Homo sapiens: one gene and its partners. The protein of the gene in region 1 binds, or shares a complex with, the protein of each later gene. Each region holds a gene or a part of one and is shown on either strand. Other genes may lie near its edges. A codon is read from its position in the direction of its gene.

Region 1 (7,854 bases):
TGGTGGGCCATGGCTCTGCCGCCTCTTTGTGGTAACCCCTGGCACCACCAGGCGTGCCGTGGAGAAGTGCAGCTTCCCCTTCAAGAATGAAACACTTTTATTTCCCCATCTGACCCTGGAGGATCCACCAGCCCTGTCCTCCTTGCTGAGTGGGGCTTGGAGGGACCACCTCAGTCTTCACATTGTGGAGCTGGGGGAAGAAACCTGACAATATGACAGAGCACCCACTGCCCAAGACTCAGCCATAGAAGATGCCGCCCCACCTTCTACTTGGGTAGCTGGGCTGGGACGCTGGGACAGGACCCCGTCCTCCTTCATGACTCCCACTGCTGCCTCTCCTGGGCATGGCTGTTAGCTGTTCTGCCTTCTGGGTGAGCTGGCACTCTTCTCCCTGAGACCAAAGATTTGACCTGTCGGTCTTGATGTCAAGGTCCCCAAAGACCAGGTTAAGTGACGACACCTGTCTGTTCCTGCCCTGTTGCTTCCAGCCACTGTGATGTTTGAAATATGTGATAGTACCTGGTTGTGAAAAAAGACAATGAACTGCTAGTGACATTCCTCAATGACCTCTCCCAAACCTCCCATGATGCCTTACCCTTGCTGTCATGACAACCCTCTGGCTTCCTAAGACCCATCTGCCTATCGAAATATGTGCAAGTCAGTGAGACGAAGTATAGAGAACAGGTGGCCCAGATCCAGGGGACCCAACTTCTGGCCCCTTGGTCTGTCACCTCCTCGCTGTGTGATCTTGAGAAAGCTCCTTCCACTCACCCACCCCACTTCCCAGTCTGTTGGGATCAGAGGAACTTTGAGGTGTCTGCCGGCTAACATTGTGTCATTCCTGGAGTCCACAGTACACGTCCCCTGCCTCAACAGGCACAGCTCTCACAAAGCTCTTCAAGCATGGAAGTGGGAGTTGTGTTGTACTTCATGGCACTCTGATGCCTGCTGTCTCAGTGTTTGGTTATTATGCAAACAAGTAATGTTTGAAATATATAATAGCACTGGAGATTTTCTCCCTACTTTCTTTTACTCCTGTTCCTGAGAGGTGGTGGGAAACTCTCCAGCCATTTCTGCACCTTGTCCTTAAGAGTCATTCTCCTGGCTGGGCATGGTGGCTCACACCTGTAATCTCAGTACTGAGAGGCCAAGGTAGGCAGATCTCGAGGTCAGGAGTTCAAAACCAGCCTGGCCAACATGGTGAAACCCCATCTCTACTAAAAATATAAAAATTAGCCAGGCGTGGTGGCACGCACCTGTAATCCCAGCTACTCAGGAGGCTGAGGCAGGAGAATTGCTTGAACCCAGGAGGCAGAGGTTGCAGTGAACCGAGAGCCACTGCATTCCAGCCTGGGAGACAGAGCAAGACTCCGTCTTGGGGGAAAAAAAAAAAAAGGGGGTCATTTTCCCAGATTAGGGAGCCAGGTGTTCTTCCTCCTTAGAACTGTGGGTCTCAAGCCCTCCCATCCTGCCCCAGAGGGCAGAGAACACACAACACTCAGCTAGTGTCTGGTTACCAGCCTCAATTTTTCCGATGGCTTCAAGCTTTCTAGATTGCATGATTAACTGTGCTGCCTAACTAGAAATGATCAGAGCTGGGTGTGGTGGCTCACACCAGTAATCCCAGCACTTTGGGAGGCGGAAGCAGGAGAACTGCTTGAGGCCAGGAGTTCAAGACCAGCCTGGGCAACAAAGTGCAATGCCATTTCAACCAAAAACAAAACAAAACAAAATTGTGGCTGGGCGCGGTGGCTCACACCTGTAACCCCAGCACTTTGGGAGGCCGAGGTGGGCAGATCACAAGGTCAGGAGATCGAGACCATCCTGGCCAACGTGGTGAAACTCCGTTTCTACTAAAATACAAAAAATTAGCCAGGCATGGTGGCACGCACCTGTAGTCCCAGCTGCTCAGGAGGATGAGGCAGGGGAATCACTTGAACCCGGGAGGTGGAGGTTGCAGTGAGCCGAGATCGCACCACTGCACTCCAGCCTGGTGACAGAGTAAGGCTCCGTCTCAAAAAAACAAAAAAAACAGAAAAAAAGTTTTTAATTAGCTGGGCATAGTGTCATGGGCCCGTAATCCCAGCTACTTGGGAGTCCCAGGGAGGAAGATCGCTTGGCCCAACGGGTCGAGGTTGCAGTGACAGCTAGTATTGTGCCACTGCACTCCAGCCTGGGCAAGAGTTAGGTCCTGTCTCAAAAAAAAAATCAGAAATTTAGCTAGGAGCTTCAAATGACAGGACATTTCTATATACAATGGATTTCCTAATCGCAGGTCTGCTAACTGGCTGGATCGTAGTCTGTCTGTATCCCTGACCCTCTAAAATGAGGGGTAGTGAAGGGGTGGGTTGCCCCTCCACACCTGTGGGTGTTTCTCGTTAGGTGGAAGGAGAGACTTGGAAAAGAAAGAGACACAAAGTATAGAGAAAGAAAAAAGGGAGCCCAGGGGGCCGGCATTCAGCAGACGAGGATCCCGCCGGCCTCTGAGTTCCCTTAGTATTTATTCATCATTCTTGGGTGTTTCTCGGAGAGGGGGATGTGTCAGGGTCATAAGATAATAGTGGAGAGAAGGTCAGCAGATAAACACGTGAACAAAGGTCTCTGTGTCATAGACAAGGTAAAGAACTAAGTGCTGTGCTTTAGATATGCATACACATAAACATCTCAATGCCTTACAGAGCAGTATTGCTGCCCCCATGTCCCACCTCCAGCCCTAAGGCGGTTTTCCCCTAACTCAGTAGATGGAACATACAATCGGGTTTTACACCATTGCCCAGGGACGGGCAGGAGACAGATGCCTTCCTCTTGTTTCAACGGCAAAGAGGCGTTCCTTCTTCTTTCACTAATCCTTCTCAGCACAGACCCTTTACGGGTGTCACGCTGTGAGGGACGGTCAGGTCTTTCCCTTCCCACGAGGCCATATTTCAGACTATCACATGGGGAGAAACCTTGGACAATACCTGGCTTTCCTAGGCAGAGGTCCCTGTGGGCTTCCGCAGTGTTTGTGTCCCTCGGTACTTGAGATTAGGGAGTGGTGATGACTCTTAACGAGCATGCTGCCTTCAAGCATCTGTTTAACAAAGCACATCTTGCACCGCCCTTAATCCATTTAACCCTGAGTGGACACAGCACATGTTTCAGAGAGCAGGGGGTTGGGGGTGGGGTTACAGATTAACAGCATCTCAAGGCAGAAGAATTTTTCTCAGTACAGAACAAAATGGAGTCTCCTATGTCTACTTCTTTCTACACAGACACAGTAACAATCTGATCTCTCTTTTCCCCACAGGATAGGAGTCCAGGTAACTTGTTCCATGGCAGGCAGTAGTCTTTTTTTTTTTTTTTTTTTTTTTTGAGAAAGGTTCTCGCTATGCTACCCAGGCTGGTCTCATCTCAGGCTCATGCGATCCTCCTGCCTCTGCAGTGGCTGGGATAAGACACAACTGCCACCAGGCCCTGCCCCTAGGCAGTAGTCTTAATGCCTGATGGTGGGGGGTTGGGGAAGGAAGGGGTTGAGTATCAGGGTAAATGCTGCAGAGCTGTGTTAAGGACTTAGGCCCTGGAGTCAAATGCCTCTGCTCACATCCCACTCTGCAAGACTTTGGGCAACTTAAGCAGCAGCCTCTGTTTCCATCGCAGTGGCTCTTGCCTATAATCCCAGCACTTTGGGAGGCTGAGGCGGGAGGATCACTTGCGCCCAAGAGTTCGAGACCACCCCATCTCTACAAAAAAATCCAAAAAGTAATCTGCTTCCTCATGTGAATGTCGTTGTAAGGAGTGAGATAACACATAGAGTGCAATGAGCAAGTCCCAGCACAGAAGACTCATTTCATAAAATACGTGTTTATTATTACCATAGGCCTACAGTCCCCGGTATTCTTAACACATCTTGCCTGAGAAGTATCACACTCATGCCTATCAACCAGCTCACACATTTAATCAAAGGAATTTGGCAGCTGTAGGGTTGTCTTTTCATCCATATCGTCCCTGGAATTAACTGTCCTGCTATACCAGTCAGATTGAGCAGCATCTGTCAAGAGTTTCAGTCCCACTTGCAGAGGAAAGGCTCTCTGGCTTCGGTCCGTGGCTCTCCGTAGGTGCCGTGTCTGGACCCAGCCTACCTTCATCTCTGTTAGGCTTAGGGCTGTCTCCACACTGTGTCTTGTCCAATCACAAGACTTCAACGGAGCGGGCGGTCTGGCCTAGGCTCTTATGCGTGGGATGTCTGCAGGCCAACAATCCCAGTCGGGATTCGAAGCCGCGCGCAGTGCCCGGAATGACCCCTCCACATTGATGCCACTGTAGAGCCCGGAAGGAAAAGCAAGCGGCCTCGGCCCCGCACAGCCCAGGATTAAATGTTTGCGCCAGGGCCCCTCTGGCTACCTGGTGGTGGCCCCGAGCGGCCTCGGAGGCCGCGGCGTAGCTCCTGGGTGAAGGCGTCTCTAAATCGCTCAGCGCGGCGGCACAGGGAGCCCACGGGCCCAGCCGCGAGGTCCTGCAGGCGGCGGGCCGCGTCCTGGCCCCGCAGCTGGGCCTGCAGCAGTGCGAAGGCCGTGAGCTGCGCCGCACGTCGGATAGGCCGCGACTCTGACAGACGTTCCACCAGCTGCGGGCTGTGCAGCAGGGCGGCCAGCAGCCGCCGCAGCACCATCTTCTCCAAGCGCCCGGAACCCGACCTCGCCGCCCTCGTCTTCCGCCCCGCGGCGCCCGACCCGGACGTCTATGCCCCCGCGCAGCTTGATGACGACACGCCGCCCTCGGATTGGGTCCAATGAGATGCTCGCCTCCGCGCGTTTCCGCTTCCGCCATCGCGGACGCAGCCTCGTGCCGGGAGTCGCCGCATTGTGGTCCGCTTCTCTGCACTATGTCGGGTGGCCTCCTGAAGGCGCTGCGCAGCGACTCCTACGTGGAGCTGAGCCAGTACCGGGACCAGCACTTCCGGGTGAGGGAGGCCGGGCCGCGAGACGGGAAGGCCCTGGGCAAGAACGCTGAGAAACGGTTTGCTCTTGTCTCATTGTGTCGCCTCCCATTCAGCTGAAATCCGCAAACGCCAAGTGGGGCCCCGGTGCCTGCTGGCGAGGCAGGGAATGGGTGCTGGAAGGGCGCTTGGATATCACTGAAGCCACTTGCTCTGGAAGACGGGGAACTGGAGGCTCGCTTATCCCATTCGCTCGCAGCCGCTCCCTGTACCCCAGCCAGTGCCGAGAGGTTTGAGCGGTGGTGGTGGTGGCGGCTCCCGTTTCCACGGTTGTGCCTCCGCAGACGACTACGTAGCAAGGGGGAGGGGTGCCCTTCTCTCTCCCAGAGTAGGCAGAGGCGCCTTCCTGATGCAGATGCGGGGCTTTTTGCTTTGTTTTTTAAATCGGCGAAGCAGTGCCCTTCGGCGATTCGGGCCCCTTCTCTGGGAGGATGGTGTTACGGAAGCTGTACGCGGTGCGTGGGAGACACAAGTGGAGTCCTCACTCCGCCCTCGGGGAAGCTTCGGAGTGGGGAGGTGGACCCGCCAAGCTCGGCACTTTGAGGGTGTTCGGATGTAAAGATCGGAGAATTGCTGGATTTCAGAAGAGGGAAATTTTTAGTCCGGACTATATCACAGTATATTTTGTGGAAAAAGGGGAGGCAGCAGATATTCAAAGTAGACTTTTCAGTATCAGCGGAGGTAGGGATGGAATACGGTTGGGGGTTGGCGGGGCGGGACTCATTAACCCAATTATTTAGTAAACGTTTATCGAGTGCTGTCGCCAAATCCTTGTGCTAAACCCTAGAGGGAGAGGGAAGACAGTTTCTGCGCTCTGCGAGCTCATAATCCCCTGTAGTGAGGATTCAGAAAAGGGAAAAATCCCCTTGTGACTGGGAAAGGAAGGGGCGCATATAGCAGAGGGTAAGTGTGGAGAATGTGTGAAATGTGTTACTAGAGTAGGGAAAGGGAAATTTTGTTTGACGCTAAATTAGGGAAGCTCTTAGATTTATTTAGTCAAGGCTGGGAACGGTGGCTCACGCCTGTAATCCCAGCACTTTGGGAGGCTGAGGCGGGTGGATCACGAGGTTAGGAGTTCAAGACTAGCCTGGCCAAGATGGTGAAACCCCGTCTTACTAAAAATACAAAAATTAGGCGGGCGTGGTGGCAGGCGCTTGTAATCCCAGCTATTCGGGAGGCTGAGGCAGGAGAATCGCTTGAACCGGGGAGGTGGAGGTTGCTGTGAGATCGCGCCACTGCACTCCAGCCTGGGCAACAGAGCGATATTCCTTCTCAAAAAAAAAAAATTTATTCAGTTAATGTATTTTATTTTTTGAGACAGAGTCTCGCTTTATTGCCTAGGCTGAAGTGCAGTGGCGCAATCACGGCTCACGCAGCCTCAACCTCCTGAGCCTAAGTGATCCTACCCACCTCAGCCTCCTGAGAAGCTGGGACCACAGGCTCGCGCCACCACATCCAGCTAATTTTTTGTAGAGACAGGGTCTCCCTGTGTTGCTCAGGCCAGTCTCGAACTCTGGGACTCAAGCGATCCACCTGCCTGGGGCTTCCCAAAGTGCTGGGATGCCTAAGTGCCAGGCATGATTTGCACTTCTACCACTTTTAGTTACTACTTTAGACAGTTCCACATCCTGACCATTTTGAACTTAAAGCATCCTGTGAGATGAAAACTGGAACCTTCTGACTTTGTCTATTATTCATCTCCTCAGTCTAAACCTGTAGCTTTTTTTAGATGCTAATGCCATACTGTCATGTGGAATTTCTAGCATTCTGTGAATGGAATCCATATTAATATACTTTAAGCACTTACACCACAGTTATCTTAAACTGTAGGCTATTTATTTGGATCTTACTTACATGTGTGAGAAAAGTAGAAAAAGAAGATGCCTCCTTTCCATGTTCACAAATCAGTAACAGCAGTAAAATGAAAGGAATTTACTTTCTCTAATGTCTCACTCCAAAGTTCCGAAAACCTCTTTTTAACATACAATGACTATTGTCCTGTGGACTTTTTTTTTTTGAGATAGAGTTTCACTCTTGTTGTCCAGGCTCAAGTGCAGTGGTGCAATCTCAGCTCCCTGCAACCTCCACCTCCCAGGTTCAAGCGATTCTCCTGCTTCAGCCTCCCGAGTAGCTGGGATTACAGGCGCCCGCTGCTACCATGCCCAGCTAATTTTTGTATTTTTAGTAGAGACAGGGTTTCATTCACTATGTTAGCCAGGCTGGTCTCAAACTCTTGACCTCAGGCGATCCACTCGCCTCAGCCTCCCAAAGTGCTGGGATTACAGGCATGAGCCACCGCGCCTGACCCCGATGAGCCATTTTGGACCCAGGGCTTTGTCTGTCAGGTGTGTTGGATGAAGCCCAGTTATATGCTTAAGTCTCTGGCTTCATCCTGTCATCCCAATTTGGAAGCCCATTAAGAAAGTGAGCTCTGTTTTGTTTTTAGTGATCACTACATTTTCCCCTAAACTCAGAGAAAGATCTATGAGCACGTAAAGCATCAAGGTTGTGGCTTTCAACAGTCTCTAGGGGGTTATTAAAGAGGAACTCTCTCTCTCTCTGAAAACCCACTTATTTTTCACTACGAAGGATAAAAGGGCCCTTTGTCATATATTGGGTCAAGGTCCAGAGTCTACACTTGGGTTTAAAGGATGCACTGCTGAGGATATGGTGTGTGCAGGGAAAAGGGAAGCCGCTTGCGTGGCAGTCGGGCGTAGAAGTGACTTTGTTGTATGTGGTATAACTTTTGAGCCCTGTCTCTACTAAGAGTCTGGACTTCGCATAAGTGCTTCACAGAAGGTCGACATCCCCCTTTTTGGGCAAGGGATTTCTGGTAGGCTGGGATGAGAGAAGTTGATTTCCAAACCAGAATTAATGAA
Region 2 (7,018 bases), on another chromosome or scaffold:
TATCCACACCAAACACACTGGCATCATACGCTTATTACTATAAAGCACCTCGAAAAGTACTATACAAGGGTGAAGAGCCTTGAGAAAGTAAAGCAAGTGTTTTTAGAAATTGATTTTAGCAAGACAGGGAGTCAGGAGGATAAAATTTTCTTACACTCTCAACATATATTTTGCTCTTACTGAATTATCAAAATTGCTGCTTCTCTCCCTTCTAAAAGTACCATGAAAAGAATCTTACCAAGTCTTCCTTTCCTTCCAGTGGGACTTAATGATGCAGTGAAGATTCTCTTCTATTACAAATCTTTCCACTGAATGACTCCCTGGCATGACAGGACCCTGGAAAGAAAACCAAATGTGTACACTACAGGCCTAGAAAACAGATTTCTTTTACTTATTCAACAAATATTTGAGAGACTATTATGTTCCAAGCACTAAACTGGGTGATGGGGATAAAAGTTCTGAAGTGTTAAAGCTCTATATTTCAGGAAATTCCATTGTCATGTTCACTTATACCCCAGAGTATCAGCTGTAGTGTTTTTTCTACCACATCTCATACCTAACCATACAACCACTGCCTACTTTACACACCAATTATTATATGAAACTAAATAATTTTGGATAATACAAGTCTTACAGAGTTTATTTTTTAAACCGAGAGTGAATTATTTCCATTAATAACTATGCAGAGAGAAAATTCTATTCAAACACCACATAGCCATAAAAAGTCATGCATGAATTGAAAAATGCCCATAATATACTGTCTAAGCTCAAAACATATTCCCTACATGGCATTATTTTATTCTTAAGTATATTCATAGCAAACAGGTTCAAAACACACAAAATAAACCTTTAATAATGACTTTTGGATGATTCTAATCTTTTTTTTACAATTTCTAATGTTTTTTAATAAACAACTTGTAAAAGGCCAGAACAGAAACAAAATCCTGTTCGTTTTGGGAGTAATATGTATTTTATATATTTATACTCTTCTAGCAAGGGATGGATATGCACCTTACAGAGGTGATACCAATTAAATACAAATTCAGGAGAAACAAATTTTGAGGTCCCATTCTAGTTTCCCCTGCACAAAAAAAAAAAAATACCCGACCACAAACATTAGCAGTCTTAAATGTAAACCAGATTTTCAGTTAGACATATCTAAGTAGATCATTACATAATTTTGACTAAAGTATTTGGTTACATATGGAATATAGCAAAGACGGCAGCAAGCTGATAATTTTGTATATGTAACTGATTATCTGAGAAATTTTTATTCCAAAATAGATTACATATATACTAAATTCCTACTGGTCATTAGCACTTTACCATAGAACAGAAAAGAGACAATAGAAGAAACTCAAATTTGACTTAGGTGGTAATATTAATTTTTATGGCAATAGTTTTCAACTGGGGGCAATTTTGCTCTTGAGGGGACATATTGCACTCTCTGGAGATATTTTTGGTTGTCAAAACTGAGGCAGGGAGAGTGCTATTGACATTTAGAGGGTAGAGATCAGGGACACCGCTGAGCATCTTACAATACACAGGATAGTACCCACAATGAAAATTATAAATTTTCTTAATTGTACAATATACAATTATAACAGTACAATGGCTGCCAGGAAACTTGACTTTGAAATAAAGAACATGTATATTAAAAATGATAAAGTCAGCTTAGACTAATCTTTGGAATTTTTTAATTAAAAATACTTCCAACATTTGTTTTCAAATAATCATACAATATGAATAATCACAAGACAGGCTGTGTTGCCTAGAGAGGGACCATACCTAAAACTAGGTACTTTTACTGAGAAATAACCTTATTAAGTATAATTATGGACAGGTGCAGTGGCTCATGCCTGTAAGCCCAACACTTTGGGAAAACGAAGCGGACGAATTGCTTGAGCCCAGGAGTTTGAGACCAACCAGGGCAACATGGCGAAATCTCAACTCTACAAAAAATTTGCCAGGCTAGGTGACACATGCCTGTGGTCCCAGCTACTCAGGAGGCTGAAGTGGAAGGATCGCTTGAGCACAGGAGGCAGAGGTTGCAGTGAGCTTAGATCTCACCTGCAGCCTGGGCAACAAAGTAAGACCCCATTTCGAAAAGAAAAAAATAAGAAAGAAAAATTGCCAGAATGACTGAGCATTCATCATGTGACAGACACTGTTCTTGTTCTATGCATTTTACATGTGAATAATTTAATCCTCATAACATGAGATATATACTACTATTATGAGATGTATACTATTATTATTACCTTCAGGAAATGAAAGCACAGGGAGGTAAATAACCTTCCCAAATTAACACAGCTAGTATTTGGCTAAACCAAGATTAAAACACAAACCAACGTAGCTCTAAAAACCCAAAACCCACACTCTTAGCCTGCAAACTGTGCACGTCTCTGTAATCTATTTACACATGCCAAATATAATTTCTTGCATAATGAGGTGATATCATTCACTGAATTAAAAAGTTAACTTCATTGCTACTGACCTTCTTAGATAAAAACAACTCAAAATTAAAACATACCACAGGCATAATTCAAGCGGGATTAACCCACAAGCACAATGCAACACAGGTCAATATCTAGGACTTTTAGTCGGTCACTTACCTCGGGATCATCTGTGTAATCAAACATTCTGAAGATGACCCTTGGCATTGGGTACACTGAATCTTCAGTGTGAGGAGGTGGTGTAAAAGGAGGCAGATTGTGCTGCAGTGCTTCACACAGGATGCTGTCAAAGGCAAGATAAGGTCTTAGGATGTGCCGTTCCTGCCAGCGATCCTTTTTCAATTTCTGAATCTGGGCCCACAGGCAATCTAAATACTAAAGACAGATTAATTTTTAATCATTAATATAATTAACATTTTGACTAGACAAAATGAAAAAATCACTACCCTTTAAAATACAGGATACAAAAGTAAGCTAACTTGTAAGATGGTACAAAAAAAGGTGCTAAGTTTTTGTTTTTATTTTACTTACAAAGTCTACCTGTTTGGAACTGTCTGTTTTGACATTTTTCAAATTAAGCATTTAAATAAATATATGTCAACTCTGTAATAGCTGGCATTCCAAAGAACAAGGGAATATTTCAATTACATTCTATCATCTATTAAAGACCTACCATACACCTTGAGCTATGAGAAGGAACTATCATGAAATGTAGAAACACAGTCAAAGGGTAAAATGGAATGGTCTGAGTATCTTACAGAGATAAGAATCTATTCAAGAGCTGACTGTGTTTGTATCACAAGGGACTGAAATCCATTTACCTCTTCTTGTGGATGTGGTTTATCAGCAGTCCATACCTGTAACATGGGTACATGAGTCTTTTGGCGTCTTCTAAAGATAAAAATGAAAATCTACATTTAGGCTTTTAAAAACAAGAGATGCTCAGTCACCCTCACAGTTATTAAAATGCAAATTAAAGCAATGAAATAACATTTTACCTACTGGAGTGGCAGATATCAACTGTTTTGATAATGTACTGTGTATCATCAAGATGCAGGTCAAGATTCAGTCTCAAACATTGTTGACAAAGAGGTTAACTGATATAATCTCTTTGGGAAAGTATAATCTCTTTGGAAGGTAATTTGACTAAATCTATCAAAATTGTTTAGAACCCTCAACTCGGCAATGCCATTTCTAAAAATTTATATCCCCCATAAATATATTTGCACATGTACATAAAAACATATACACAAAGATATTCACTGAAACATTGTTTATAAGAGCAAAAGATTGAAAATAACCTAAACGTCCACCAACAGGAGACTACGGAAATCATGGTACATTAAAAAGTGAAATACCCTACAACTGTTAAAAAGAATGAAGTAGAGTTAAGTATTTTTATGCAACAAATCCAAGTTATAGTAAGAAAAAAAAAAAAAGCCAAGTGAAGAACAGTGTGTATATTGGGCTATCATTTGAATAAAAAAGAGAAAGGATATGTATACACACACACACGATTCTTTTTTTTTTTTTTTTTTTTTTTGAGACGGAGTCTCACTCTGTTGCCCAGGCTGGAGTGCAGTGGCGGCACCATGTCGGCTCACTGCAACCTCCGTCTCCTGGGTTCAAGCAATTCTCCTGCCTCAGCCTCCCGAGTAGCTGGGATTACAGGCACCCACCACCACGCTCGGCTAATTTTTGTATTTTTTAGTAGAGATGGGTTTTCACCATGTTGGCCAGGCTGGTCTCAAACTCCTGACCTCGGGTGATCCACCTGCCTTGGCCTCCTAAAGTGCTGGGATTACAGGCGTGAGCCACTGCGCCCGGCCAAAAGATTCTTATTTTTTAAGCTTCTTTTAACTTTACTTAATAACCAACTAAGTAGCTATTAACAGTTATCCAAAAAAAGCACTTAAAAAAGAGAAAATGAAACTTAACAACAAAATCAATCTGTAAAAACCTAAGGGCCACATAACCATTACCATGTTGCTGGATAGTTAAGCATAAATTTACTAAAAAGACCTATTTATTATTATTGTATCTAACAATATAAACCAAGCTTTTACATTGGCTTAGGAGAGATGAGTAATGGGAAGACATGTGACTATTTTAATTGAAATGTGTCATATTACTTAAGAAGTACTGGCTGGATGGAGGGTTAAGGACCACTGTTTTAAGAGCTTGATTTAAGATTAATTTACATGAACTAAATATACTGTATGTGCTAGGACAGTGGTTCTCCACTTGTGAAATGTGTTAATAATACAGATGTCCAAACCTCTCTCTCAAATTGTATAATTTATCAGGTCTGGGGGTTGGGGTCTGAGTATTTTAAGTACCACAGGTAATTCTTATCCACACTAATATTTGAGGAACTATTGCACTAGGGTGTTTTATGTCTTTTATAAACAAACATATAAAAGCAGCTTAAAAGAAGCTATATTGCCAACTGTCCTTTGCACTGGCAAAAGTAAGCAAACCATATCTGACTACTTTGAGGTCTCAGTGAGTTAAAACAGCAGGAGAACAGGATTACCTAGAAAATACCTTCAGGAACTCTACAGCTTATTTTTGAGAAACTCAAATGGTATCACTGATATAAGATATCCTTTACCTAAGCAACAAAGAGTACTATGAGCTGTGCCCTTACTTAAGATAGCTTTCAGTGTTGGCAAAGATGCGGTCCATCTCTGCATCTTTCTTTTCGTACAACTCCTTTCCAACCCAGGGCAAAGATGACAGAAATGCATACACATACCAATCTCGTCGCACCTAAAGGATTTTTAAAAAGTTAAGTTTAAAATATGCTTTAATTATATTCATTCATATTTTATTTATTCTTGAATGAAATCCTATGGAAGCTATTTAATAGGACTTAAATAAGACATCTGGTTTATACAGAGCATTTCTAGATATATTAGTTCTAATCTTACTAGACAGCATCATTTAAATCAACATACAGATATTATGAGAACCCACCAGTGTGCCAGTCAGCTTAATTTTTAGATAGTAAGAACTTAAAGTGTGATAGTCTGCTGTTATTTTTTTCTTTATTGCTAATGGGTTATCAGCGAAAAATTCCTGGTACTATATGGAAGTACCAGGATTCAGTAACCCCTCAAGAACCCCTCAAGATTCAGCATGAGGGGTTCTCTTACCTGAGGTACATCTTCTTCCTGAGTTACGCTTACAAAATTTTCAAACATAGCAACCATTGATGGGGCGGCAATCACATGACAATTCACAAGATCAGATAAAAAACGGACCTGTTGGGGCAAACAATTTCTGCTATTAAACCTAAATGTTCTTTATAATAACTACAAAATAAGCAATCTTGTATAGGCTAAACTATTGGTCTAAAAAACTATAGCCTAAGGGCTGAATCTAGCCTACTACCTGTTTTTTGCATAGCTGGGAACTAAAAATGGTTTTTACATTTTTAAATGCGTGAAAAAAAAATCAAGAGTATTTTATGACATATACAAATTACATGAAATTCAAGTTTCAGTGCCCATAAGTAAACTTAGTGGAATAGCCACGCTCATTCAGTTACATATTGTCTATGGTTGCTTTTGTGCTACAATGGCAGAATTGAGAAGTTGTAACAAAGACTATATAAAGGACAGTAATCTGTGAGTTCATACGTTTCTATGCTATACTACATCAAGAATCCAGATTGTAAAATATTCTAGCTACTTCAACCTATAATCTCCTTTTCTGTTTGGCTGTAATTTTCACTGAATTACAGAAATGGAAATTACAGAACACATATTTATTGGGTGTGCTTAGTGTGCTATTGCTAAACACTACTAAAAGTCACTGTTAGGGGACCCATTCTAGTGGAACAAGCACAATCTCAATACAAAGGAATGACTCCCACACTAAAAGGCAAATTAAGCATTTTTTAGGAACAATGACAAAGGGAGTTGGGGAAAGCATCACAAAGGAGGTAACAATTAGGCTAGGTCATAAAGGATAGCAACAGCCTCAAGTAGTGAGCAAGGAGGGCAGTCTAGGCATAGAGGTTCAAAAACAAGGTGTGTTTAGGGATCTGCAAGTTATTTTGATATTGCTGGGGAGCATATGGGAGACAAGAATAGAGAAACAGACTGGGGAAACCATAAAGGGTCAGGCTAAAGAGTCTGGACTTTAATCCTATAGCCTGATGGGTGTCCAAACTTTTTTGATTGTGTACTCAGTAAAAAAGAATTTGATCACATATCTTCAACACATACATATGTATTTATGATATACACTGGATCACCATTAATCTATGTATTATTAGTAAGGTTTAATTTCATTTCCACTTAAGATAAATAAGAGTTCTTAATATTCACTTCCTGAAACCCAAGGAATCATCTTGTGCACCAGGCTTTTAAGACCACTCACTGTAGACAATGGGAAGGAACTAAGGTTTTTTTAACCAGTAACCAACATGTGCAGAGCCTAGTTATAGAAAGACCAGTCTGGTGCCACTGTAGAACACAAAGTGAAAAGCAGAGAATCTAGATGCAAAAAGATCAGTTAAGAGGCTATTAAGAACATCTGGAGGAAGGCATAAA
Region 3 (7,571 bases), on another chromosome or scaffold:
ACGGAGTCTCGCTGTCACCCAGGCTGGAGTGCAGTGGCACAATCTCGACTCACTGCAAGCTCCGCCTCCTGGGTTCAAGCAATTCTCCTGCCTCAGCCTCCCAAGTAGCTGGGACTACAGGCGCCCGCCACCACGCCCGGCTAATTTTTGTATTTTTAGTAGAGATGGGGTTTCACCTTGTTAGCCAGGATGGTCTCGATCTCCTGACCTCGTGATCCGCCTGCCTCGGCCTCCCAAAGTGCTGGGATTACAGGTGTGAGCCACCGCGCCCGGCCTCACACCCTGCTGATTTTTGTATTTTTAGTAGAGACGGGGTTTTACCATGTTGGCCAGGTTGGTCTTAAACTCCTAATCTCAAGTGATCTGCCCACCTCAGCCTCCCAAAGTGCTGGGATTACAGGCATGAGCCACCACGCCCAGCTGGTATTTTTTATAAGTGACTCGATATATTATGTATTCAGTTTATTTGAACCTCTCTTGAACCTGATAACATTTTCAGCCCTTTCCATCCCTTAGGGCAACATATTCCAAGAGCTCCAATCCAAGGTGGATTAGAACCACAGAATTTGTAAAATGGAGAATTCAGGAGTCGTCTAGTTTTTTCATTTTATACATGAGAGGTGAAACTCAGAATGGTACAGCAATTTGCCAGTGCTTGAGTATGCATATTTTTCCCCAAACCCATCTACATTCCAACTTGGAGGGATGCCCTTTAAACAATCTTTCTGCTTGTGCTCACCTTTAACTTCCCCTCAAGGGTTCGAGAACGCTTGAAGCCTGAGTTCTTGGTCTCAGCCTTGATGGCACTGATGGCTCCTGACTTCACCAGCTGCTTTGCCTGCTCTGTTGCTGTGGCTGTGTCCATGACAGGCTGCTCTGATAGTGCTGGAGAGACAAGGGGAAGAGGCATTATGTTGGCCAAGCCATGATGAAGGTCAGCTCCATGCTGCCCACTTCCAGTCCATCCCCATTTCCCCTGTCACTCACAGCGTTTGACACCACCTTGGCTGGTTGTGCTGCTGCTACTTTGCTTCTTCAGAGCCAGCAATGCCTTTTTCTGGGAACAAGGGTGAGAAGAGAGAGGTAAGTGAGGGCCAGCCCCTAGCCGGTTCCTCTCCTAAGGCCCCTGGGCACATCACTCCAGGGACCGTCTTTCTTGATGCCCTCAGAGTGGTACACTGATGTGCTCTGCCTCTTGCCTCTGGTCCCCTAGATCATGTATGATGCTGGAAATTCCTAATCTAACCAAACCACGGAACCCAGAGGTTTTCCAGAGTGTTACATTTTTGAAGTTGAAGACAAATAACTCAATCATGGACTAGAATCCTAGGATATAAGCTGCAAGTAAGTATAAGTTTATGTGCCTTTCCTGGAAGCTTCATCCATCTATTTCCTGCATATTGAATGAGGCCCAGCCATGACTTCGTAACAGGGATATCCAGGAGGCTAATGCATTGTTCCTACCCTCAAGAAGCTTACAGTCTGAGAAATAAAATACATTGAGTTAGCAATACAATTATAAGAGGTGCAGATTATTCATAGCTGAAAGCTAGTAAGATTTTCTGATGTTTAATGGCTATTAAACTAGGCCCTCTCCCGTATCTCTGCACAACACAGAGAGGAGAAGGGTATTTTAGAAAAAGAAAACAGGGTGGCAAAGATGCAGAGATAAGAAGGCTTTGGGAATGCATCTTTTGGAAGTAGTGAATAGTTCTACTTTACTAGACAAGGCTGCCAAACTAAGGTTTTGAGGCTTTTTTATAGACAATGTGAAGCCATTTATGGTTTTTGAGAAACAGAGGGAGCAGAATTTTGTGTTTTCAATGGATCATTTGAACAGGAGTGAAGAAGTCTGTTCAAAAAAAAAGACTGAGAAATTTGTTGAGAGACCATTACAATGGCCCACATGAATGTCAATAAAGCCCTGCTCGGGGGAATGCACAGTGAAGAATAAACAGGAAAAATTACTTCAAAAGAAGAAACAATAAGACTTGGCAAAGGTTTGACTATGCAAATAGTGGGGAAGTCAGAGTTTTGAGTCCAAACATGTGGCAGAATTGGTGTAGTCAATCTTATTTGGAAGATCAAGAATAGAAAGATGATAGCTTCAACACTGAGTATCTGAAGTTTTTCAGTATAACACTGGATAGAACTGGAAAAAACAAACTTGGGGATCATCAGCTCTTAAGCGGTACTAAAAGCCATGGGAAAGGAAGACAATCCATGGCAAATTGCATAGAAAAGACAGAAGGTCCACACCAAGGCTTGGGAAAGCCCACCTCTCGAAGCTACACTGTGAGGTGATATGTCTCTAGGTATGGGCCAGAAAAACTTCCCCATTCGCTCACACTCACCCCATATCTTCTCAGAGTGCAGAGTCTGTGAAAGGTTAGGCCATGTCCACACACAGTCCCTCACCTTTTTCTTGAGCTTGTTGAATTTCTTCTGCAGAGCCTCCTCTTCCTCGCTCAGTCCGGGGGGTATCACCAACATGGTGGCTCCTAGTTCAGGGGCAGGGCCCAAGACATCTTTCTCCACTGTTACCACCCGGGGTTCACACGCCGTCCACACTGTACCCAACCCCACCCCTTCAGGTCTGCCTACTCTTGTCTTTGGCTTTCCCTACCCCTTGCTTAAACCAGGCTGCTGTCCAAGCTCCCGCTGGTCGGGATCATCCAGCATTCCCTCCTGTCTCCAGGGATCACAGACACCAGCACCTTTAGGTACCATGTGGTTCAAGGAGGGACAAATATCCACTCCGTCGGAAAGACGATGGCACCCGACCCCCCTACCCTCGCTAGGGTAAGGACAACCGCGGGGTTTGAACGGCAGAGAAGGCGGTGGAGCCAGCGTAGCGCCCGCAGAGCAACGCAAAGAGGAAGAACAGAGAAACGGCTATGAGAAAAAGGGCCGAAGAGTGAGAAGCAGAGGGCCTTACCCGAGGGGGCGGCAACCGGGGGCCCCACGGTCTCCGGCCGCGCCCGCGCTGGCCGCTGATAGCGGGCTCACAACGATGACGTAGCGAGGAGCGGAAAACGCGGTAACCAAGGCGGCCCCAGGCGCGCACTTCCGCCCGGCCTTCCACCGGTCCAGGTCTGCCCCTCCGCAGCGATAGTTCACGCTCTCGGCGGGGCTGTACCGGAAGTTGCCTCTACTTCCGCCCGTTCCGGGGCGGGGCTTACTTCGCAGCGACTACTTGCCGCACTTCCGGGCTGCCAGGCAGCTGCTGTGGCTCCAGGATGATGGAGACAGAGCGACTTGGTGAGGGGGAGGGGAGGGAAATGGAACGGAGTAGCCGATATGGAATGAACTTTGACCCCTGACTTTTGACCTTTCCCCGTAGTGCTACCCCCTCCAGATCCCCTGGACCTACCCCTTCGGGCCGTGGAGCTCGGATGCACGGGGCACTGGGAGCTGCTGAACTTGCCTGGAGCTCCAGAGAGTAGCGTGAGTGACTTTTGACCCTAACCTTTGACCCGCATTGAGTCCAAACCTCCTTCACCCTCCTCACAGTAGGATCTAGCTTAACCTTGTTCATCTGTGCCTGTACTCCTGTCCATCCCAGCCTGAAGGGGTGCTGGACAGATTACAGCCCAGTGTACCTGCAGTACATGTGAGGACAGAGCAGAAAGGGCTGGGGATATTTTTGCTTTGAGAGCTGCTCTTTCAAATGTGGCATTTCTCCGTGGAGCTCCCTTCTGTATCCAAGCACCAGGGCACTTGGTGACTGAGATGATAGGCTTTGAGCCTCCAACCTTTCATCCTTAGGTCTGGGACCCCTTTTTCTAAAATCAGTGAGTCTCCAATTTCAGTGTGCTTCATGATTAGCCAGGGAGCTTTTTAAAAATGCACATTCCTAGGTCCAGCCTCCATGTTTCTGAAATCCAAAATCTGCCCCAGGTAATTCAGTAGCAGGTAGTTTTTGGCCAAGCCTGATTGTCCTAGTCTGTTTGACACATCTGCCATTTCTGATCTGAACACAAGTCCCATCATCTCTTTTGTCTGCATTTTATCCTCTTTCCTTACCTAATGCCTCTCATCTTGCCCTTGTTTCAGCTTCCCCATGGCCTCCCTCCTTGTGCCCCAGATCTGCAGCAAGAAGCAGAACAGTTGTTTCTGTCATCCCCAGCCTGGCTGCCTCTGCATGGTGTGGAGCACTCAGCCCGGTGAGGAGTCTGGAGGGGCTTAGACTAGGGTGATGGGTTCCTGAAGGAAGCTGGGACAGAGGAAGAAAGAAGACCCAAAAGTTACTATTTTTCTCTCCAGAAAATGGCAGAGGAAGACGGATCCCTGGTCTCTTTTGGCTGTCCTGGGAGCCCCAGTCCCATCCGACCTACAGGCCCAAAGACACCCAACCACAGGCCAGATACTGGGTTACAAAGAGGTAGGAGGTCAGGGGTCATGAGAAACAGTTGGGGAGAAGGGGAGGTGGTCAGAGACAAGCTCAGCCTCATTGGGGCTCTGATCTCTTGCCTTAGGTCTTGCTGGAGAACACAAATCTCTCGGCTACAACCTCCTTGTCTCTTCGCCGGCCTCCAGGGCCAGCCTCCCAGTCCTTATGGGGAAATCCAACTCAGTATCCCTTCTGGCCAGGTGACTCTTGTGGAGATGGGATGGTAGAAGAGGGTGTCTTTAATCTCCAGGGAAGGGTTCCCCACCTATCTCGTATTACCCTCATCCCATGAATCCCTGTCTGTCCTGTCTCTTCCCAGGGGGGATGGATGAACCCACCATAACAGATCTGAACACACGGGAGGAGGCTGAGGAGGAGATAGACTTTGAGAAAGGTAAGGTGGGGCTCTGAGTCTGAGCCTTGAGGAGGAAGAGCCCAGGCTATCACTGGGCTACTGCTAGCCCTCCCATGTTTTTGAGAAAATTAGAAAAAGATATTCTGTCCATAACAACCTTTACTGTCATCTGCTGGGAAATTTCTACAACAACCTTTACTGTCATCTGTTGGGAAAGTGTCATAGCAAACATCCCTATCTACAGCATCTGTCCTGTAAATGGTATCTTTTAGGTTTATATAATGTACACAATTTGTTCACCAGTGTGCAGTGACCTGATTTCATGTCCCTATCCTACAGATCTTCTTACTATTCCACCTGGTTTCAAGAAAGGCATGGACTTTGCACCAAAAGGTTAGTTTTAGTTTTTGAGTGGGGTGTAGGAGAAGTCATGTCCTTCTCCTAAGGAACAGAGATGGACATGACAAGGTTGACCTTGTTGGCTTGCTCCTCAGATTGTCCAACTCCAGCTCCTGGACTACTAAGCCTTAGCTGTATGTTGGAGCCTCTGGATTTGGGTGGGGGTGACGAGGATGAGAATGAGGCAGTGGGACAGCCAGGAGGTCCCAGAGGGGACACTGTTTCAGCCTCTCCCTGCAGTGCTCCCCTGGCCCGAGCAAGCAGCTTGGAAGACCTAGTGTTGAAGGTTGGTGGTTCTGTGTAGTGGAGGCAAGAAAGAGCCTTGCCACCAGGATGTGGGCTGGCTAGGATGGGTCTGAGGGGAAGAAAGGGACATCTTTTGGGAGGAGTGCTAATTGAGAGCCCTCTGGTTGTATCTTTATCACTGCTACCCCTGACTCTTCCAGGAAGCGTCCACAGCTGTATCCACCCCAGAGGCCCCAGAGCCTCCATCTCAGGAGCAGTGGGCCATCCCTGTGGACGCCACCTCCCCTGTTGGTGATTTCTATCGCCTCATTCCCCAGCCAGCCTTCCAGGTACTTTGGCCCCATCTTCACACGCTCCTCTACCTCTTTCTGGGTCACACTCCCAGCCGACCCCTTGTCTCCTCTATTGGCCAGAGGTCAGATCCATCCCAGGCCAGTCTTGGTACTCAGTCCCAGCCTCGGCTGGCTCCGGCCTTCATCCGCCCGCCCTGCGTGCTCCATGAGCAGGAGGCAGCAAGGCCCCGCTCCTTTCTTCAGCTCCTGTCTATTTCTCTCTCCCATAGTGGGCATTTGAGCCAGATGTGTTTCAGAAACAGGCCATCCTGCACTTGGAACGGCATGACTCTGTCTTTGTCGCAGCTCACACATCTGCAGGAAAAACAGTTGTGGCTGAATATGCCATTGCCCTGGCCCAGAAACACATGACACGGTATGAGTTCCTTTGCCAACCTCCCCCTTCACCAGCCAGCCCCATTTTCTCCTGCATCCTTTGAAAATCTCATCTCTTCCCCCACCTCTCTAGCTCATCCTTTAAGTGAGAGGTTCAGGGCTAAGACTGAGACAAGAGCCCAGAGAGAAATGAAAAGACATGGTGGGGAGAAAGTTTAGAAGAATGACCTGGGTTAGTTTAGGAAGGGGTTGGGGACAGAATTTTTCTGGGGTTATATCATGCAGGAGAATGTAAGGGCAGTTTGGGTGAAGAAGAGGAGCACCTGAGCTTCTGGGGCATGCTTCCACGAGGGCTCCATGTGGGAGAGGAAGTGCGGGCCATGAGTCTGCGGAGGGACTGGCTAACTTCATGCTCTCTTCCCAGCACCATCTACACTTCGCCCATCAAGGCCCTGAGCAACCAGAAGTTCCGGGACTTCCGAAACACATTCGGGGATGTGGGGCTGCTCACCGGGGATGTACAGCTGCATCCGGAGGCCTCCTGCCTCATCATGACCACAGAGATCCTTCGGTGAGAGATGGACACTCAATACAGGGGAGTTTTGGCTGGGAAGATGTGGCCGTTGTGGAGAGTGTGCTGTCTGAGGAGGGGGTGGAGACGAGCCACTGGGGAGTCAATCCTTGGCCTCTTCTCCCCAGCTCCATGCTGTACAGTGGCTCAGATGTTATTCGGGACCTGGAGTGGGTCATCTTTGATGAGGTTCACTATATCAACGATGTCGAGGTAAGGGCCATGGGCTCCCCAGAACCCGGCAGTCCTCTCCTTTGGGACCAGTTGAGCGTCTCCCTTATTCCACACACTCAGGGCCCCTTACTGCTTTCTTTACCCCCATATGGAATCCTGTGCCTCTTTATGGGCAGAAGGGCGGCCCCTGCCCTCATGTGACCTCCCTTCCCTCTCTGTGCCCAGCGTGGGGTCGTGTGGGAGGAGGTGCTTATCATGCTACCTGACCACGTTTCTATCATCCTTCTGAGTGCCACCGTCCCCAACGCCCTTGAGTTTGCTGACTGGATTGGGTGAGACGTGTGTCCCGGGTTGCCTGGGTGAAGGGGGCTACAGTACTCCTTGATTCGGGTGGGGGACTAAGTCTACCACAGCAAGGAGAGCGGTCAGGCCTTAGGGGTGATGCTGGGGAACATGTCCCACCTGGTGGCTGTGGGATCCCCTTTGGGTCCAGATTACTTTGCATGTTGAAATGGGATGAGATGTTGGGGGATAGCCTTCCATTCTGGGTCTCAGAAAAGACTGGGTAAAGTTGGAGGGGTAGGGAAGGGGGTGGGGATGTGGGTTCCTTCCCACGTTCCCACCCCTGACCTGCTTCCCTCTCCTTTCTTCAGGCGGCTGAAGCGTCGTCAGATCTATGTGATTAGCACTGTAACCCGCCCCGTGCCCCTGGAGCACTATCTTTTCACAGGGAACAGCTCCAAGACCCAGGGGGAGCTCTTTTTG

Evidence for each region. Proteins that work in one complex are often made in the same cells at the same time.
Region 2: the proteins of NCBP2 (region 1) and NCBP1 are in contact, whole or in part, in a crystal structure (PDB 5OOB), measured with the Homo sapiens proteins. Residues at the interface, in NP_031388.2 of Homo sapiens: Gly4 (codon at 4,871), Leu5 (codon at 4,874), Leu6 (codon at 4,877), Lys7 (codon at 4,880), Leu9 (codon at 4,886), Arg10 (codon at 4,889), Ser11 (codon at 4,892), Asp12 (codon at 4,895), Ser13 (codon at 4,898), Tyr14 (codon at 4,901), Glu53, Glu54, Gln55, Tyr57, Glu58, Leu59, Lys62, Ser63, Asp65, Lys67, Ile69, Tyr89, Asn96, Arg99, Tyr100, Asn102, Gly103, Thr104, Arg105, Leu106; in NP_002477.1 of Homo sapiens: Glu32, Cys36, Leu71, Thr74, Val75, Arg77, Leu78, Leu79, Ser324 (codon at 264), His325 (codon at 261), Trp326 (codon at 258), Lys327 (codon at 255), Glu328 (codon at 252), Arg329 (codon at 249), Lys330 (codon at 246), Ile368, Val370, Met371, Thr374, Glu378, Asn415, His419, Ser422, Asn423, Gln425, Lys455, Arg458, Leu459, Ser460, Tyr461.
Region 3: the proteins of NCBP2 (region 1) and NELFE are in contact, whole or in part, in a crystal structure (PDB 5OOB), measured with the Homo sapiens proteins. Residues at the interface, in NP_031388.2 of Homo sapiens: Phe49, Tyr50, Thr51, Thr52, Glu53, Gln55, Lys68, Ile69, Ile70, Met71, Leu73, Lys77, Lys78, Thr79, Ala80, Asp107, Glu121, Gln124; in NP_002895.3 of Homo sapiens: Lys361, Arg362, Gln364, Ile365, Val366, Tyr367, Asp369, Tyr372.

What each region holds. Positions count from the first base shown.
Region 1 is NC_000003.12:196,939,511-196,947,364, reverse strand, and holds the start of NCBP2 (nuclear cap-binding protein subunit 2), read left to right. Parts: upstream 1-4,836; 5' UTR 4,837-4,861; coding exon 4,862-4,939; exon of another isoform or gene 4,940-5,406; coding exon of another isoform or gene 5,407-5,430; intron 5,431-6,222; exon of another isoform or gene 6,223-6,391; intron 6,392-7,237; exon of another isoform or gene 7,238-7,488; intron 7,489-7,854. Other genes in the region: PIGZ (GPI alpha-1,2-mannosyltransferase 4), read left to right, coding at 1-208; protein NCBP2AS2, read right to left, coding at 4,349-4,648. UniProt on the Homo sapiens protein: Component of the cap-binding complex (CBC), which binds co-transcriptionally to the 5' cap of pre-mRNAs and is involved in various processes such as pre-mRNA splicing, translation regulation, nonsense-mediated mRNA decay, RNA-mediated gene silencing (RNAi) by microRNAs (miRNAs) and mRNA export.
Region 2 is NC_000009.12:97,643,821-97,650,838, reverse strand, and holds part of NCBP1 (nuclear cap-binding protein subunit 1), read right to left. Parts: intron 5,723-7,018; coding exon 5,615-5,722; intron 5,229-5,614; coding exon 5,107-5,228; intron 3,348-5,106; coding exon 3,278-3,347; intron 2,832-3,277; coding exon 2,616-2,831; intron 337-2,615; coding exon 239-336; intron 1-238. UniProt on the Homo sapiens protein: Component of the cap-binding complex (CBC), which binds cotranscriptionally to the 5'-cap of pre-mRNAs and is involved in various processes such as pre-mRNA splicing, translation regulation, nonsense-mediated mRNA decay, RNA-mediated gene silencing (RNAi) by microRNAs (miRNAs) and mRNA export.
Region 3 is NC_000006.12:31,955,954-31,963,524, forward strand, and holds the start of NELFE (negative elongation factor E), read right to left. Parts: upstream 3,019-7,571; 5' UTR 2,939-3,018; exon of another isoform or gene 2,627-2,938; intron 2,529-2,626; exon of another isoform or gene 2,502-2,528; 5' UTR 2,494-2,501; coding exon 2,419-2,493; exon of another isoform or gene 2,355-2,418; intron 1,058-2,354; coding exon 988-1,057; exon of another isoform or gene 886-987; coding exon 740-885; intron 1-739. Other genes in the region: SKIC2 (superkiller complex protein 2), read left to right, coding at 3,240-3,261, 3,344-3,447, 4,057-4,166, 4,267-4,384, 4,479-4,593, 4,713-4,787, 5,088-5,141, 5,243-5,433 and 6 more. UniProt on the Homo sapiens protein: Essential component of the NELF complex, a complex that negatively regulates the elongation of transcription by RNA polymerase II.